Linked DNA regions of Homo sapiens: region 2 is linked to region 1. A link means that fine-mapping ties the variant in region 1 to the expression of a gene that starts in the linked region. Tissue or cell type: cerebellar hemisphere. Region 1 holds a variant in brackets; the other region holds the start of a gene. All regions are shown on one strand. Distances are from middle to middle.

What was found. PIP is the estimated chance that this variant, and not a neighbour inherited with it, causes the effect. A credible set is the group of variants that fine-mapping cannot tell apart.
Region 2: ABCB6 starts here. The variant in region 1 is the best candidate, but not a certain one, in a credible set for the expression of ABCB6 in cerebellar hemisphere (GTEx, PIP 0.82).

Annotation. Positions count from the first base shown.
Region 1 is chr2:219,183,154-219,185,653 of GRCh38, reverse strand. RETREG2 (reticulophagy regulator family member 2) reads right to left here. Exons shown (of 9, transcript NM_024293.6): 9 at 179-2,500. Among named protein-coding and RNA genes, the nearest start is that of RETREG2, 6.1 kb to the right of the region's middle. The variant C/A (reference allele first, on the strand shown) is at 1,248.
Region 2 is chr2:219,217,831-219,220,330 of GRCh38, reverse strand. ABCB6 (ATP binding cassette subfamily B member 6 (LAN blood group)) reads left to right here and starts at 1,373. Exons shown (of 19, transcript NM_005689.4): 1 at 1,373-2,206. The coding sequence starts at 1,658. It overlaps ATG9A (autophagy related 9A), which reads left to right. Exons shown (of 16, transcript NM_001077198.3): 16 at 1-951. RefSeq lists a silencer at 1,934-2,043 and an enhancer at 1,289-2,156.

The DNA.
Region 1 (2,500 bases):
GCTCTCTTCTTGGATTAGAGATTCCCAGTTCCTCCAACAGTTTGTCCTATGATGATTTTCAGCCTTCATTTCTAGCAGTCATCTCCTGGACATACTACAATTTGCCCACAAGCCTAGCAAGCCATCCTCTGGAAGTATTAGGATATTCGTGCACAGGACACTAGAATTATCACATTTCTTGTTTTGGAGACTACACTTTTATTAATGCAGCCTAAAATTAAGTTTATAAGCAGCAACATTAAACTATTAGCTGTTTGAATACATAGCTAAAATGTACTCCCTCCTCCCCTAACATAAACATGTAGCCAACTCTTCTCCCCTCAGCCTGTACTTTTCCAGTTGATTTTTGTTTAGCCTAATTGTAGGTTTCACATTTCTGCTTTTTTCTTTTACTCATATGAAAACCTCTGGCCCTTTCATCGTGGGGCATGAACCGGCCAAGACACCTGATAATAGAAAAAAAAAATCATAGACAAACATGTAGCAACCATCAGACCATGGTGAATGTAAAGAATAGACCCTCATGAGGCTGGGCGCCGTGGCTCACACCTGTAATCCCAGCACTTTGGGAGGCCGAGGTGGGTGAATCACCTGAGGTCAGGAGTTCGAGACCAGCCTGGCCAACATGGTGAAACCCCACCTCTACTAAAAATACAAAAAATAGCCAGGCATCGTGGCATGCACCTGTAATCCCAGCTACTTGGACGGCTGAGGCAGGAGAATTGTTTGAACCTGGGAGGCAGAGGTTGCAGTGAACCAAGACTGCACCATTGCACTCCAGCCTGGGCAACAGAACAAGACTCCGTCTCAAAAAAAAAAAAAAAAAAACCCACAAAAAACAAAAAACCAAAACAACAACAACAAAAGAATAGACCCTCATGAAACTCCAGGCCTATGGAGAATATTTTGATCCAGCTACAAGCTTCTGGTTCTATTGTCAATGTCCAAGCTTAATAAGAAAATAGATTAAAGATAGGACATGTTGCAGTCATTGCCTGATTAATTCTATTTTTCTTGAATTGCTTGCTTATTGATTAGAACTGTTTTTCCATTCCCCTCTGAAATCTCTAAGTGATGAAAAGTTCGAGTTCCTTTAGTGGCACAGGACAGGGGCTCAATCAAACCCTAGAATGATTCTCAGTCAAATGTGAAGCAAACAGAAAAATTCTTACACACTTAGGAAAGACATGGCATAAAAGTCAACCTCAGAAAGACAGGCAGCATTACCATATGGTACCTCCAGCAGA[C/A]AGCCAGGCAGCATTACCATATGGTACCTCCAGCAGAAAGACAGGTAGCATCGCCATATGGTACCTCCAGCTGAAGGCGGAGGACATGAACTCATAAAGGAGGCCATCTGCTCAGTTCTGGGCTTTTCTTCCCCAAAGAGGAAGGCTTGCCATGTCCACTCTTTGTTAAGCCAAGGCATCAGATTGGTTCTCTATAGTTCCCACATCCTTGTGCATCTTCCTACCTGTGCCCTATTAATGGACAGGGGCTGTCTGATGCATTTGCTGAAGCCAAAACTTCTTGGGTTTGGGTTCTGGCTCCACAATTTACTGGGACCTGTGGCCTTCAGGAAGCTTAACCTGTCTATAAAATGAAGTTAGTAACAGTATATATCTGACCTGTGAGGAAAAATCTTAATACATATAAATCACTCAGAGCAGAGCCAAGCACATACAATGGACTCAGTAACTGTTAAGATACTATTTCTTCAGTGTTCCTTGGCTCCAACTCATTTCTAACACAGGTAAAGGTCCTCTATTGCTTGTTTGGCTTCCCCAGTAAAGATAAATCCAGGCTGAGTGAGTTGTTAGCATGTAGATGGGTGAAGACTTCTTAAGAAAGCAGTGTTAAGGTTGTAGGCCACATGGTAAAACACAATTTTTATGGTCCCGAATTTCTACCGATTGGGAAGACAAAGCAATTTCCTCCTGCATATACTTTATTCACACATGCTAAATCTCACTAAACAGATCACACTGTCAAGGAAGATGGCTAAGGAGAAGCTAGGGTTGTCAAGGTAATCCTTGCTTCGGCCCTGTTTTGCAACAAGGTAATAAACAGCCAGAACAGACTGGAGTGAAGCAGGTTAAGGGTGAGGAGAGAACACAGTGCAGTGCAGGGTGTGGAAGGCAGCTCACAGTCAGGGAGGCAGCAGTTCTAGCCAATCAACACTTTATTTTTCAAGTCAACACCTGCACAGATGTTAGTGTCCACTTCCTGACCCTAGTAGGGGGTCCCACTACACTTGGATCACCCAGAGGAGCAGTAAGGAAGCTCCTAATCTCAAGAGAGAGCACATGCTCACCAACTCCAGTGCTGGCGCCATGTACTGCGGGATCCCTGCTCTCCTGCATCATGAAAGGCCGGGCTGAATGGGGCAAGGATGCAGTGAAGGTTACACAGACTACAGTGACCTAAGAGTGTAACTACTGGCCTGACCCACTGCCCCAGGTTTACTCTTTACTTCCCAGACCAGGAGCCTCCCTAAAGCTTG
Region 2 (2,500 bases), 35 kb before region 1:
TTGTGTGTCTGTGCCTGGCCAAGGGAGGTGCCAACACTGGGCTTGCCACAGCCCCAGGAGAGGAATTTGGGGCCTAGGAACCGAGGGCACACGGGACTCTAGCCTCATCCCCAGGACCCCCTTGGCTCAGAGTGTGGTGCTAGAAACTGGCCCCCAGCCCAGCCCCAGTACTGCCACCTTTACACCTACCCCTGCAAGTCCCCAGAGGGCTGCCCACGATAGAAGCTGCCAAGCAGGGAGAACCTGTGCCAACTGTGGAGTGGGGAGGTTGGGCCTGGACCCTCAACCCCTGCAACCTTCCCTAGCCCCCTCAATAGATGAGCAGGTCAGGCTGTGGCCCTTACCTCACCCGCAGTTCTCGCCCAGTGCTGCAGCCGGCTCACCTCTCTCCGCTTCTTGCACATCACTGGCCTGTGTGTGCTGCTTGCTCCTGTTCTGTTCGCTTGCTCCCGTTCCGTTCGGCTTTTGCTTTGCGTTAGGGTGAAGACCCTAGCGTCCAGCTCCCCTCAACGCTATATTTTGACACTAAAAAAGAAGGTTTCTAAATTGTAGGAGCAGGATGGAAATACTTTGCTGCCCTTGCCATCTTTTAGGATGGGCCCCCAGGAGACTGAGGTCTTCCTGGGCCCTCATTGCTGCTTATCGTACCCCCCATCACCTGCACATGGGACAGACCGGGCTGGAGGGTGACCTTGGCTGTGTGCGTCCCAGCAAAAGAGCTCTGGCCCGCATCTCGCTGTGCCCTGAAGGGGGATGAAGGGCGATGCCTCGCCCGAGGCTTTGGGCTGCTGCACTGCATGCTGGGACTGCTCCTACTCTCTGTCCCACCCCTCACCCAGCTGTGGTCCGGCTTTGGGAGAGTGGTGAATTGCGCTGCCCGAACTCGGAGCGGAGCAGGGTAGGGACCGTGTACAGCTTGATAACCCTTAATAAAAAGGGAGTTTGACCAGACTTCTTGTTGTCTCGCGCGGCTAGAATCCTGGGAACAAGAGAAATGGGATGGGGACTCTGCCGGGGTCTAGAAGAAAGTATGTTTAGGCCGTCGCTCAGATACGCTGAGCAAGGCGGCTGGCGGAAGGGCAGCTTCCGACCCACAGTTCCGTGGAGGTCTGTGTCCTGCCCCGAGCCAGGATTCCGTGAGGTCTGTTTCCAGCCCCGAGCCACGATTCCGTGGAGGTTTCCAGCTCGGCCTGGTCGTCAGATTTCCCGCCCTGGGCACGTGACCAAGCCGGCTCTGCTTCTCTAATTTGCATTCGTTGCCTGCACCATTCCCCCCGCTCCCCCCTCGGAGACATTTGGCCAATGGGAGCCGTGGGTAGGGGCTGTGGGCGGGGCTACAGCCGTGGAGCGCGGTGCGAGTCCAACACCGAGCATTCCCGTGGGCCTGCAGTTGGCAGGAGGGTCCCGGGCCCAGAGCCAGCGGGGCCGTGCTGAGACGGCGTACGTGCCCTGCGTGAGTGCGTGGCGGCGGCGCGTGCGCTAGGGGAGTGGGCGGTGAGGCCTGGTCCACGTGCGTCCCTTCCCGGGACCCCCGCAGCTTGGCGCCCAGCGGCTACGTGAGCCAAGGCACCCGGATGTCCGCGCCCCTCTCCGAGTGACCAGTCCCGGCCTCCGGTCCCGCAGTGCCCGCAGCCTCGGCCGGCGTCCACGCATTGCCATGGTGACTGTGGGCAACTACTGCGAGGCCGAAGGGCCCGTGGGTCCGGCCTGGATGCAGGATGGCCTGAGTCCCTGCTTCTTCTTCACGCTCGTGCCCTCGACGCGGATGGCTCTGGGGACTCTGGCCTTGGTGCTGGCTCTTCCCTGCAGACGCCGGGAGCGGCCCGCTGGTGCTGATTCGCTGTCTTGGGGGGCCGGCCCTCGCATCTCTCCCTACGTGCTGCAGCTGCTTCTGGCCACACTTCAGGCGGCGCTGCCCCTGGCCGGCCTGGCTGGCCGGGTGGGCACTGCCCGGGGGGCCCCACTGCCAAGCTATCTACTTCTGGCCTCCGTGCTGGAGAGTCTGGCCGGCGCCTGTGGCCTGTGGCTGCTTGTCGTGGAGCGGAGCCAGGCACGGCAGCGTCTGGCAATGGGCATCTGGATCAAGTTCAGGCACAGCCCTGGTCTCCTGCTCCTCTGGACTGTGGCGTTTGCAGCTGAGAACTTGGCCCTGGTGTCTTGGAACAGCCCACAGTGGTGGTGGGCAAGGGCAGACTTGGGCCAGCAGGTGAGGGACTCTGTGGGAAGGGGGAAGCCTCTGCTGGCCGGGCTTGGGAGAAAGCACTGCATGTCCAGTCACACTGCTTCCAGGCTTTAGGATGCCTCTAAGCAAAGGGAGAAGGGAGGGGCTGAGTCCTGCCGGGAGCTGATAGCCAGCTGGTGGGGTGTGTCTTTGCTGAGTCACTGTGGTTTTGCTTTTTTTTTTTTTTTTAAGCCTGTAAGTGCTGAATGTGTTCATGACACCAGTCCCCGGCCCTATTATAAGTAGTAATACAATGAAATTTTATCCTCAATGATACTC